3 separate regions of the Homo sapiens genome follow, and regions 1 and 2 are each linked to region 3. The links come from fine-mapping of genetic effects on gene expression. A gene starts in region 3. Each other region holds a variant in brackets. All regions are shown on one strand. Distances are between the middles of the regions. Region 1 overlaps TMEM252-DT (TMEM252 divergent transcript). Region 2 overlaps PGM5 (phosphoglucomutase 5). Region 3 holds the start of TMEM252-DT (TMEM252 divergent transcript).

Region 1 (4,245 bases), 85 kb after region 3:
CCATGGATGGATGCTAAAACAAGTTTGTTTGTAAACAAGCTATTTACCCAGTCTAAAATTATCCTCCTGAAGATTATTACCACAAAGGAAAAATGTTTTAGAGTGAAGAAATCTGGGTGACACCACCAGTACCTCCCCATAGATTATTTATTCTAAAGAGGGAGAGATTCCCCAGAAGTGGAGCAGTCACACGGATACTACTTTAACCACATGATCAAAGTTACCTTCACCACCAATGGGGCAAACTGACATCAGGTGCCCCCTAATGTGACACACTGAGAAGGACACAGTGTGTGCATAATTTGAATCTCACACCAGACAAATCCCAGAGATATGTTACAGAAAAATAGGCCTGCACTCTTCAAAAATGCTGGTGTCTTAAAAGACAAAAATTGGGAGCCTTTTCATTCTCAAATAAAAGAGACTAAAGAAGCAACTGGCTTCTTAGACAACTGGCTGGGTGCGGTGGCTCAAGTCTGTAATCCCCACACTTTGGGAGGCCGAGGTGGGCAGATCACGAGATCAGGAGATGGAGACCATCCTGGCTAACACGGTGAAACCCCGTCTCTACTAAAAATACAAAAAACTAGCTGGGCGTGGTGGTGGGCGCCTGTAGCTACTTGGGAGGCTGAGGCAGGAGAATGGCGTGAACCCGGGAGGCGGAGCTTGCAGTGAGCCGAGATAGCACACTGCACTCCAGCCTGGGCAACAGAGCAAGACTCCGTCTCAAAAAAAAAAAAAAAAAAAAAAAAAAGCATGACAACTATGTAGAAATACAAAGTCCTGGGTTGGGAAAACATGTTATAAACCCCAATATTGGAAAGACTGGCAAAACTTGGATATGATTGTATTCAGTAAGAGATTCAAAGCTGTGTTAAATTTCCTAAATTTGATCATTGCACTATGTCTTTGTTTTTAGGAGACACTTGCCAATGTGTTTAGGTGGGAAAGGTCATGATATCTGCAACTTATCTCAAATAGTTCCTAACAATAATAATAATAATAAATGTACATATAGAGAAAGCAAATATAGCAAAATGTCAATAACTGGTGAATGTAGGTGAGAGTATACAGGGGTTTGACATATTCTTTTTGCAACTTTTCTAGGAGTTATATATTTTTTTTCAAAAGGAAAAGAAGCACAAGCCGAGGGAGTTCTAAACATTGAAGACTCTAACCAGTGTTTTTTTTTAAGGTCAAATATTTTAATATTATTTTTTCTAGCCACTAAATTCCATCTTAATGAAATGTCAAAATAGGAAACAGGTGAAGGAGTAATTTCCTGCACTGCCAGGCTCCTAAGAATGTACAGTATTAGCTTCAATTTCAAACCTGCAGTGTTTAGAAAGGAATTTGTTTTCTTTTAAATCCAGGTACCAAAGTTGAAAGCCCCGAATGCTCACAGAGCAGCTGGAACAAGAATTACTGCCTGCAGGCGCTTCTGTCCACCAGCCACGTGTCAGTGAGTGGCCCTGGACCCAGCCAGGTTGTGTGTGCACCTGCGGTTCTTGCCATGGGGAGCAGGAGCCATTTGGCTGCTCCTCTTCATAGGGCACCACCTGCAATCTTTCACTGCCCAGGTAAGCAGAGCATAGGAAGTCAGGGAATCAGAGCACTGAATGGATCTTGGAAAGCACCCAGTCCAACTCTCCCCACCTTCCCATCTGTGGCATTAATCACCTCTATAACGTTGTAACCAACTGGTCAACCAGCCTCTATTTGAACATAGCCAGTGGCTAAAACGTCTAAGCAGCTCATCCATTTTTGAATAGCTTAAATTGTTTGAATATCCTTTCTCTTAAGAATAAGTATCAGTACAAAATGCCTACTTCC[G/A]TTTTGTAGGTATCTGGTAAATTTTTTTCAATAAAAAAAGTCAAGTCAGATTAACTAAAATTGTGGAACAACTTGAATATTTGCAGTCAATAACTAAAGTCATATATTTCAGATCCTTCAGCAGGGCATCTCTGTAAAATAACATTTGGAAATCACAGAAATTTACTCTTAAAGGGCCTTTCTTGTTCATTACATTCTGAGATATACCCATTTTATGGCCATATATTTGAAAACAGACAAAAATACAGGAAATTTATAGGGACACGTAGTAGGCATATGTATATGTATGGATAGCACGTTTACATGTGCATAGATAGGGGACATGGGAGGATAGATATCAAGGGTATTCCTAGGGAGTGGGAGTGGGTAAAGGAAAAGAGGCTTTTACTCTCCACCTTAGACATTTTGTTATTGTTTGATTTTATTTTTTATAAAGAGTATGTTGCTATTTCTATCACTTAAAACCATTTTCTCAAAAATTTACAAAACAACAATAGAGAGAAATCACTTACATTGAGCTGAAATCTGATTGCCCAGAGTTTCCATTTTCTACTGCACTCTGGACAACTTAAGATAAGCCCACTCCTTCTTGCACATAGCAGCGAGTCAGCTGTCTGATGCCAGTCCTTGAGGCCTCCATATTTCTCTTCTCCAAGATAAATGTTCCCATTTCCTTCAGCTGTCTCTCAGTTGGCAGGAATTCAAGTCTTCTTGACTTCTTATCACTGCCCACCTCCCACTGAAGTAGAGCATATCAGGTGGGCTCAGAGAAAAACCCATTCAGAAGTTCAGGTGGCAGTTGGTCATCTATTGAAAATTAGCGAGTCCATGGTTCTTTGTGTTCTTGCACCAACTTGGCCTAACTTTTTGGGGTCTCAGGTGCTGTATTAAAGGTGCTCTATTTCATGCATCAGTGATGGATGAAAGCAGGTCTGCAGGACACACATGCAGTTATAATCAGAACACCATGGCGAGCTTTCCCAACACTTATAAAACCTGGCTGATATATCAATGCCAACTCAGCACAAGAACAGCAAGGAAAATGTATAAAGGGAATAGTAGGAAAATATGTTCCCCTGGCAATCAGAAGAATTAACAATGGTATAGCGAAGATATGCATGTTATGGCAGCACATGACCAAGATAAGAGCACATAGCAAAGCGGTCAAGAGGATCAGCTCTTCCACATATTTGCTGTGTGACTTGGGAAGGTTTCTTAACCACTCTGTGCCACAGTTTCATTATCTGTAAAATGGGGATAATAGTGGTCCCTACTTGATACAGCTAACACAAGGTTTAAATGAGCTGTTCCTTTAAAAGTGTCTCTGGCACATAAGATACGCTACATAAGTGTCTAACAAACAAAAAACAAATGAGGTGACTTTGATTTCATGGTTTCTGACTGGAATGGTCAGAGGAAATAATGTGAACAAGAGGTGTGCAAATGGACCTGCTTGGCAAATTTGAGGACTAAACTGTGCTCTGTTTAGGAAACATAACAAAGAATACAGTTCTATCGGCTGAAGCATTCCACCTGTTGCAAACACAGAGGAAACTGTCCTTTCATAGATTAGTGCTTTGGACACCTGCCTGCCTGCCATTTCTTCCTTGTCAAAAAAGGTTAAAATAGACCAACCTCATTAGTACCAGGAACATATGAATATGTTAAACGGTTGGTACAATGACTCCTATTCAAAAGTACAATGACTGAGAGGGAAACAACTACCACTCCTAGTTATTGCCATTCCTTCATTTACATGGGGCCCCATGGAGTTTATTTAGGGCATACAATTGAAGTACATTTCTCTATAACTTTCTCCTGCAATGGATCAGCAAATTTTATTTTTTTTTCTTTTTGAGACAGAGTCTTGCTCTGTCACCCAGGCTGGAGTGCAGTGGCGTGATCTCGGCTCACTGCAAGCTCCACCTCCTGGGTTCATGTCATTCTCCTGCCTCAGCCTCCTGAGTAGCTGGGACTATAGGCACCCGCCACCATGCCCGGCTAATTTTTTTGTATTTTTAGTAGAGACGGGGTTTCACCGTGTTAGCCAGGATGGTCTCGAACTCCTGACCTCATAATCCGCCTGTCTTGGCCTCCCAAATTGCTGGGATTACAGGCATGAGCCACCACACCCGGCCCCTGGATCAGCAACTTTTGTACATGAGGCAGACTGGATGTTCGGCAGAGCCAGAGTTCATACTATGCTGAACATGTCAGTAAAATACAAATTATCTTTGAACTGGGCTTTTTCTAATTCCAAGTTCTTCTCCCACTTTCTTTAGCTTTACCTGTGTTCTAATTCAAATCCCTGAGAGTGTAATGACCTTCACCCAGACTATGGGTCACTAAGAATGTTCAGTGTAGGATGTTGATCTTGATGTATTGAAAATGGCACTGGTTCTGCTAATTGTT
Region 2 (4,245 bases), 65 kb before region 3:
GAGTGAGTGGCCTCTCTTATTGTATGACCAACAATCCTGGTTTGTCCAGGACTAAGAAGTTTCATGAGATGTGGGACTTTATGTGCTAAAAGTGGGAAAATCCCATGCAAACCAGGATAAGTTGGTCACTCCAAAGCTGGCAAAGTCCTCAGTTTTCCAGATGAAAATGGCAAGGAGAAATCTTGATACTGAAGCTGACTCCAGTGAGAACCCCCCCATGTGAGCAAGGCCAGGGCCGTGAATTAAATGAGAGACCCATGGCTGCTTTCCCTTAGCACCACATTCAAGCAAAAAGAGGAAGAGGCCTCACTCACTACCCCCAGGCATTCTGCCCCAAACATGAGACTGCATACGGTGCCTTTCTGCTGAAGCAAGTGACTTTCAAGCCCGGCTGCCTGTGAAAATCACCCAAGGAGTTTTTAAAAAAGAAATACCAATGCCTGGGCCCCATCATTAAAAGTTTTTATTTTATTGGCTCAGGGTGAGACCTGAGCATTTGTATTTTTTTAAAATCTCCTTGGGTGATTCTAATGTGCAGTGCAGGGTTGAAAATTGCCAACATATGTTACAACTTGGAGTTGGCAACAGGTGCAAATTGACTTATAGTTTTCCTAATTGACAAATTTAGAATTTCCTTATCTGAGTTTCAGCTGTAATGGCTTGATCTGTTAGTAATGCATGGGATGCTTTATTGAGCTGATGTGTCCATACTGGTGTTTCCATGTGAAGAAAACATCTTTAAGATGATTGAGCATTCTCTTTATTTTTCCCTTTTCTTTTGTGAGGGCAATATACTTATTAGTGTCCTGCCTAGCTCAAGTAGCATGGTTTTGAAGATTGAGAAAATTCAAAGTTTAATTTGAGTGGAGGGGGAACAGTGATATTTCTCTAGAAAAAAAAAAAGGCCTTCTTTTTTGTACCAGTTTTTGCTGGAGTCATGGCAGAGAAGAGCTGAGCGCCCTCCTTCTGGTATGTGGATGGAGATGGCTGCTTCTCAGGGCTGCTCAGAGTAAGATTGCGTGGGCTTTGGGCTGGGCTAGGTTGGATGAGAAAGGCAAGGTGAGTGGTACTTACAGCTTTGGAAATATGGGTATATTCTCCCTGCAATGTCCTGAGCCAGGCAGCAAGCTTCAAAAATTGTGCTGGTGTTATTCAATGCTAAAAAGACACTCACTCTCAAGCCATAAAAAGACATGAAGGAACCATAAATGCATATTATTAAGCAAAAGAAGACAATAAAAAAATACATACTAGATGAGCCCAACTATATGACTCTAGAAAAGGCATGTTTTAAATGTGAATTTCTATGCACCATTGACAACTTTGTTTACTTTATTTTTATTTATTGTTTTTTTTGAGACGGAGTTTCACTCTTCTTGCCCAGGCTGGAGTGCAGTGGTGTGATCTCAGCTCACTGCAACCTCTACCTTCTGGGTTCAAATGATTCTCTTGCCTCAGCTTCCCAAGTAGCAGGGATTACATGGATGTGTCTGCCATCATGCCTGGCTAATTTTTTTTTTTTTTTTTTTTTTGTATTTTTAGTAGAGACGAGGTTTCACCATGTTGGCCAGGCTGGTCTCAAACTCCTGACCTCAGGTGATTCCCCCACCTTGGCCTCCCAAAGTGCTGTGATTACAGGTGTGAGCCACCGTGCCTGGCTAACAACTTTAAAAATTTATTTTTTTCTTATGAAATAATACGTTGTTATTGCGAAAATATTTAAAAGGAAAGAGAGGAAAAGCATCTGCAGTTCTACCACTTCAGAGATAATAACCATGTTAAGAGTTTGGTGTATATTCTTCTGTTTACTTGTGTACACACATATATACATATCTATATTTTTTATAAAAATATACTGAATATTCTTTTTTAGTAAACTGATTTTTCATTTATTAAAATTGAATGCACAATTACCTATTGGATACAATGTTTTCTATTTAAGTGATGAGTACACTAAAAGCCACTAGGCAATATATCCATGTAATAAAACTGGACTTGTACCTCCTGAAACTATAAAAATAAAATAAAATGAAAAGAATTGAATAAACATGGTTTTCTGTGTTACTAAAGATTCTTGTTTGATTTATTTTGTCTACCCACAAGGTTTTGAATGAATTTT[G/A]TGCAATGATCCTATTGTTCAACAATTAAGCCTGGGCAACACAGTGAGACCCCATCTCTAAAAAAGTAAATAAATAAATTAGCCAGGCATGGTGGTGTGCACCTTGAGTCCCAGCTACTCGAGAGGCTGAAGTGGGAGGATCACTTGAGCCTGGGAGGTCGCGGCTGCAGTGAGCCATGATTGAACCCCTGTACTCCAGCCTGGGTGACAGAGCAAGACCCTGTCTCAGAAAAATCAAAACAATATTTTTCCAATTTTTCTTTATTCTCTTATCTACTTCATTGAATGTCCTATGACTTAAGGTTAAGAAATAAAATAGCTGGGTCGAAAGCTGCATGATATTTTTAAAGACTGTTGATCATTATTGCCAAGTTAACTCTTCCCCCGTCAAACCTTTGCTAACCTGACAGGCCCCAGATGGTATCCCATTTTACACACTTTTCTTTGACCACAGTGAGGGTGAACATTTGTTCCAATGTTGACTATTATTATTTTCCTCTGACAATTGCATGCTTGTGCCTTTTCATTCCATTGTCCATTGAGGTTTCTCTTTTTCTTATTGACCTATGAAAACATTAAAAAAATATCCAGCCTATTATCCCTGTCATATATATAGTGTGAACATTTCTACTCCCATTTTTACTCTGTTTATAGTGGGGTTTTAGAAAACCATTTGATACCTTTGTGCTTTCTGGAATTTCTTGTTTAATCTGCCTGTCACTGATACAGCATAGCGTTCACTTGCCTGAAAGCCTTTTTAAAAGGAGAGTTATAGCCCCCAAATCCACTCCAAAGTACACTATAATCATCCAGTGGAAACATCTGTGTAATTGAAGCATCATTAATGTCTCTGTCCCAAACTCAAAGAACTATAAAGGGCATTGTTAATTTTACTTCATCATCAGCCCCTTATTAATCTTGGCAAATGTTTAACTTGTAGGCAAGGATGTCCAAGCCAACTCACAATTTACTATGCAATTGGCTACAAATGTTGAGGTGGGTTTTTTTGTTTATCCACCTAAAAGAACTTTATGTCCCTCTAGCACTAAATTATGACATCTTATCTCACAGATTTAACAGCATCTAATGGTTCTATCTCTAGGTAATGTAATCCAGCTGGAGTTCGAAGGTATGCAAAGCCCATGTTTTAGAACAAAAGGGTATTTTTCTCTAGCCAGTAAATAAAAGTGATTTTTTTTTTCAGCTGTAAAAGGACAAAAGGTTTTGAAGTGATCCCACTGGGCAGGGTTTCCTAAACTTGTTTTTTGGCAGTTGGCCATGGAGCTAACTCAGTCTTCCAAACTTCTTCCATTTTTGTAGCAGTGTAAAGAATTCACTGGATAAGACTAAAGACACTTCATGGTGTGATGATTAATGCCCAGGGTCCTGTTAACCCAGAGGCAACCACAACTGGACATCCAACAGTGCCATTAGCAGACCGTTGATCAGTGTGTAGGAAGAACTAAAAACCTGACCCTTTTTCTTATTGATTTTAGTACCTTCACAGCCCCCCTCAGGTTTGCATGTTTTCCTTATTGAGAAAAAAAGTTTAACATTTAACACCATAAATGTCACAAGTACGGTAAATGGTCTGTAGCTTTAGTTAGAAGTTGTCAAAGATGTTTGACTTAAGTATTGTTTGATCCCATTTTCAGGGGTTAAACAGCTCTGTGGCGTTGCGTCTCCCTTGTTGGTTTTCCATGTATGTTTTGTAGTTCTGAAACCCAAGAATACTGTTGTCCATTCTCATTGCCCTGCTGCAAGAAGGTCCACTCTGTGGACCCAGTCCTGTTTCTTAAGACATTACTATTGCTAGAGTGAGAGGATAAAATTACATGAATAACCAAGAACAATTTCTGAAAGCAGGTATTGAGGAATCAGCACCTTGCAGTAATTCACACAGCTTTATTAAAATTACCAACAACAAGATCAACAGCAAAGATATGTGATATCCCAGCCACTGTTCTGAACATCTGGGCATATTTAGTTGCTTAATCCTGACAGTAACCCCATGGGGTAGGGGCTGTTATTGTCCATAGATTACAGATGAGTACCGCAAACAAAGGTAAATGGCTGAGCCAGGATTAGAACATGAGAAATCTAACTCTAGAGCTTGTCCTCTTAAC
Region 3 (4,245 bases):
TTTCTCTTAATTTTTAATCAAACCCAGAAACTCTGCTGGTTAGTATAACATTGGAAATAAGTTTTGGTTTTCATAATTATTATCTTATTAATTAGCATAAAGGATGCCAAAAGTGGATGCTCATGGGTAAGATTACTTATATTCAAGATACATGGAGTAGCTAAAATATTTTAGATACTTTCTACTCTTGCACGAAGAGGGCAAAATAATTATAGTCTTGTAGCCTGTATCTTGAGAATGATGCCTAGGGTGTTATCCCTAAATGGTCCTGTGGCTAGCCAAGAATTAGGAGGTTTCTTGTTGCCTGATACTGACTATAAGATTAACTGAATCTTTTTTTTCTTGTGGTAAAATATATATGACATAAAATTTACTGTTTTTAAGTGTATAGCTCAGTGGCACTAAATACACTCATATTGCTCTACAACCATCACCTTAAAACTCTCTACTCATTAAACAATAGGTCCCCAGTCTCTCCTTCCACCAGCCCCTGGGACCACTGTTCTACTTTCTGTGTCTGTGAATTTGACTACGCTAAGTACTCATGTAAGTGGAATTATACAATATTTGCCCTTTGTAACTGACTTGTTTCACTTAGCATAATGTTTTCAACTTCATCCAAGTGGTGGCATGTGCCAGGATTTCCTTCCTTTTTAAGGCTAATATTCCATTGCATGTATATACCACATTTTGTTTATCTACTCACCTGTTGATGGACATTTGGGCTATTATGAATAAATGTTGCTACAAGCATTGGTGTACAAACATCCATTTGAATCCCTGCTTTCAGTTCCTTTGTGTATAAACTCAGAATGTAGAATTGCCAGATCAAACAGTAATTCAATATTTAATGTATAGAGGAGTCTCCACACTGTTTTCCACAGTGGTTGCACCATTTTAACATTCCCACCAGCAATGCACAGCGTTCCAATTTATTGACATCCTCACCAACACTAGCTGTTTGGTTTTGTTTTTTGATGATAACTATCCTAATGTATGAGATGGCGAGAAAGAATGAATCTTGCCTCTAGAATATTATCACCTTCCCCTGAAGGAATGTTTTATGCAAGGTGAGATCACAACACCTAAAAGGACAGTAAACTGGGACTTTTCTGAGCTCACAGAGATTCCAGGACTCATTTTATGCCTGCTTCTTCATTTGTTGTGTGGCAGAATTTGGTCTGGGACTTGCTTTCCTTAGAACCTCATAGCCAGGTTATGGGAAGTAACTAACCATCACCTGCCACTAATTAATGACAGCTGCCATGATATAACAAAAGAGCCTGGGTTTCTAAATTGGCTTAGGTGGGTTTTCACTGGGGGTGGTGGTAGGGTTTCTCTGAGATGAGTTGCCCCTGCGTCATGGTTTTCCCCAAAGATGGCGCCACTCTTCCTAATAACAACCCCAGAGTAATTCCCTGACAATAAAGCTTTGGTTCTAGACAGACAGCCCATGGGACATGTAAGTCGCTCCATAGTAGGATCAGAAATTACTCAGATCTTACACAACTCAGCCCATCTCAGCCCTTCTTGGTCCCTCTGCCTGTCAGCACGTACCTGTCTACTGTGGCCACGGGCAGGGCCCCATGAGCAAGGTGTTGTCGGAGCATGTGCCTCAACACTCCTTTGCTTTCAGTCACCTGGCGATAGTTGCTCCAGAAAATTCCACTCAGAAGGATCACAAACCCCAGAGGCAGAAGCAAATAGGCCGCAATCAGGCTCCCCTGACAGTCGAATATGGAGCCCCAGGAAATGAAGAAGGCCCCCAGGCAGACCATCAGGAAACCCATCAGGAGGGCAAGAGCACAGAGAATGAGGCCAGTTCTGTTCTGCATCCTTGCACCTTAGGAACCCAGCACCCTGACCCTGCTGCTCCTCTGCTTCCCTGCTTGCTCCAAGAGAATGAGCTCATTAGCCAGCTTGCAGCTTTATATGCTCTGGGACCCACTGGCCTTTGGACAACTAAATGAAACAGGCACTTAGAAGCTATTCATTAACCATTGAAAGTAAGTGTAATATCCTTGGAGAATTAGCCAAAAAACATAGCATTGTATACTGCAGGCAGGAGTGGCTTCGTGTAGCTGTTTTGTTCTTCAGAGTTGGGTGGGACACTCAGCTGTTCCCAGTTATTTGAACGTACAGCCCTCCTTTGATTAAAAGGCGCTGGTCTCTTAATCCCCATGGAGGGCAATTCCCCACTAAAAGCTGGAGAAGTTAGCACTCTTTAAAGAACGATCTTCTTTGAGGTTTGGTAAGAAATCCCTTCCTGATTCCTTCTCCCTTTTTCTGTACTAAAAAGGCATTTCTTCAAGGCTGTTAACATGTTTGTCTTGCCTCCCTCAATGAATCCCCACTTATTGCCCCCACACTATGATACTGGCATAATTCCAAGACAGAAGTTCAGAGTGTGAACTTCGTGGTTCCTGCTCTGTTGACAAGATCGAAAGAGCCTGAGTGGGAGGGAAAGGAGAGTGCTGGAGAAAAGGACTATAATAGACAGAGCCTCGGGAATTTGGGGGGATTTTGGGCCTGTAATTCCTGCAATCTTTCCCCCTTTCATAAAGTACATATGAAATAGAATTCGTTTTAGAGGATGCTGCTAAAAATGTTCCCTGTCCTCTCCTCCACACCTCTGCTCTATGTAGCATTGCCTCAAAAAATCTTTCCAGAACCAGCCTTCTGTTTCCTGGCTGGAATTTGTTTTCTTTAGCTTGACTGTCTTTGATTGTGGATAGCTTATTTCAGACGTGCTTTATGCCCTGGCTCTGCCCTTTTTTATTTGATAATGTGGCATGTCTCTGCCAAAAGTCTCCTTCCCATAGGAACCCTGGGTTGCTTTTACTCAGGATAGCTTATCTTCAGTTCCTCTTTGCTGCTGTTCCACTCCACTACTCCATTACCATTATTTTCCATTTACTTTCCCAATGAGAGCAGCAGTTTTTTGTGGCGTGCCCTAATAATCCCTCATATAACCTTTAGTCTCACACTCACCATCTCCTTAGCTCTACCTTCATGTTAGGGCTGGGAGACACGGATATTAGAGAGGTACACACTATGGATCAAAAACTATATAAGGCACTTCTCCATTCCAACCCTTAGCCTTTACCTTTCTTAGCTTCAATTTCGACCTTGAACTACCTTGATCTTCTAGTCTTGATATTGTCTTTGTAATCTTAAAACAGCTCTTATTCCCTCCTTCCCCAAACTGTGAGATGGAATATTTCTAAGATGATCCCTAAGGATCCCACCTCCTGATATTCATGTCCTTGTGTAAGTAATCCTCTCCCCTGAGTGTAGGCTGGACCTAGTGACTTCATTCTAATCAATAGAATATGGTAACGGTGATCGGAAGTTACTTCCGTGGAGGCTACACAAGATTGTGGTTTTCATCTTTCTAGCAGACTCTCTCTATTGTCCTCTTGGCTTACGCCCTTTGAAGAAGGAAGCTGCCATATTGGAGAGGCCCATGAGGCAAGGAATTGAGGGCAGGTTCTGGCCAACAGTCACTGAAGAACTGAGGCCCTTAGTCCGTCAGCCCATGAGGAACTGCATCCTGTCAATGACCACGTGAGCTTGCAATCAAATCCTCATCCCACTGAGCCTTGAGATGACTCTGCTCCCAAGCATCACCTTGACTCAGTGACCCTGAAGTAGAGGACCCAGGTAAGTCATACTCGGATTCCTGACCCACAGAAACTGTGAGATAAAACGTTTCAGCCAGGGTCCTGGATGCCACAAGATGGCAAGAGCCATAATCAATGAATGCATTATGATCAAATCATTTCATGTTTATGGATGTCACTATTTTAACAAATAAAAGAGGTCAAAAGTTTAAAAAAAGTATATTTTAAAAATATGCTAAGTTTTGTGGCCATTTTTTAGATAGCAGTAGATAACTAAAAAAATTCTCTTAGAACTTTGAAAATCAGAAGAGACAATCAATGTTAAGTATTTATCATAGTACCTGGCACAGAGAGTGCCCTGTGAAGGTTATCTATAATCACCATCACCAATATTGTTATTATCATTGCTGTTACAATTCCAAAAATCTGTGGAAGACCCAGGACCCCCAGCTGAAAGGTCTGCACTAGGAGTTGGGTCCCAGGAACAGGTAGATGGTAAAGCCCCAGGATAATGTTAAGAATCAGGTGATGGAGGAAGAGTACTCTCAATCGGAACTGCCCATCAGACAGTTGGGCTTCTCTGTTTTAGACAAAAATGGAGGCAGAAATTAGACTGGGGATT

What was found. PIP is the estimated chance that this variant, and not a neighbour inherited with it, causes the effect. A credible set is the group of variants that fine-mapping cannot tell apart.
Region 1: its variant is the best candidate, but not a certain one, in a credible set for the expression of TMEM252-DT in whole blood (TOPMed, PIP 0.59).
Region 2: its variant is the best candidate, but not a certain one, in a credible set for the expression of TMEM252-DT in whole blood (INTERVAL, PIP 0.85).

Annotation. Positions count from the first base shown.
Region 1 is chr9:68,624,268-68,628,512 of GRCh38, forward strand. TMEM252-DT (TMEM252 divergent transcript) reads left to right here. Exons shown (of 5, transcript NR_187592.1): 3 at 1,374-1,580. It overlaps LOC105376071 (a long non-coding RNA gene), which reads right to left. Exons shown (of 3, transcript XR_929902.3): 3 at 2,230-2,765. Among named protein-coding and RNA genes, the nearest start is that of PIP5K1B, 79 kb to the right of the region's middle. The variant G/A (reference allele first, on the strand shown) is at 1,834.
Region 2 is chr9:68,473,675-68,477,919 of GRCh38, forward strand. All of the region lies in intron 7 of PGM5 (phosphoglucomutase 5), which reads left to right. Among named protein-coding and RNA genes, the nearest start is that of TMEM252, 65 kb to the right of the region's middle. The variant G/A (reference allele first, on the strand shown) is at 2,120.
Region 3 is chr9:68,538,980-68,543,224 of GRCh38, forward strand. It overlaps TMEM252-DT (TMEM252 divergent transcript), which reads left to right and starts at 2,046. Exons shown (of 5, transcript NR_187592.1): 1 at 2,046-2,251; 2 at 3,399-3,663. TMEM252 (transmembrane protein 252) reads right to left here and starts at 1,904. Exons shown (of 2, transcript NM_153237.2): 1 at 1,558-1,904. The coding sequence starts at 1,835.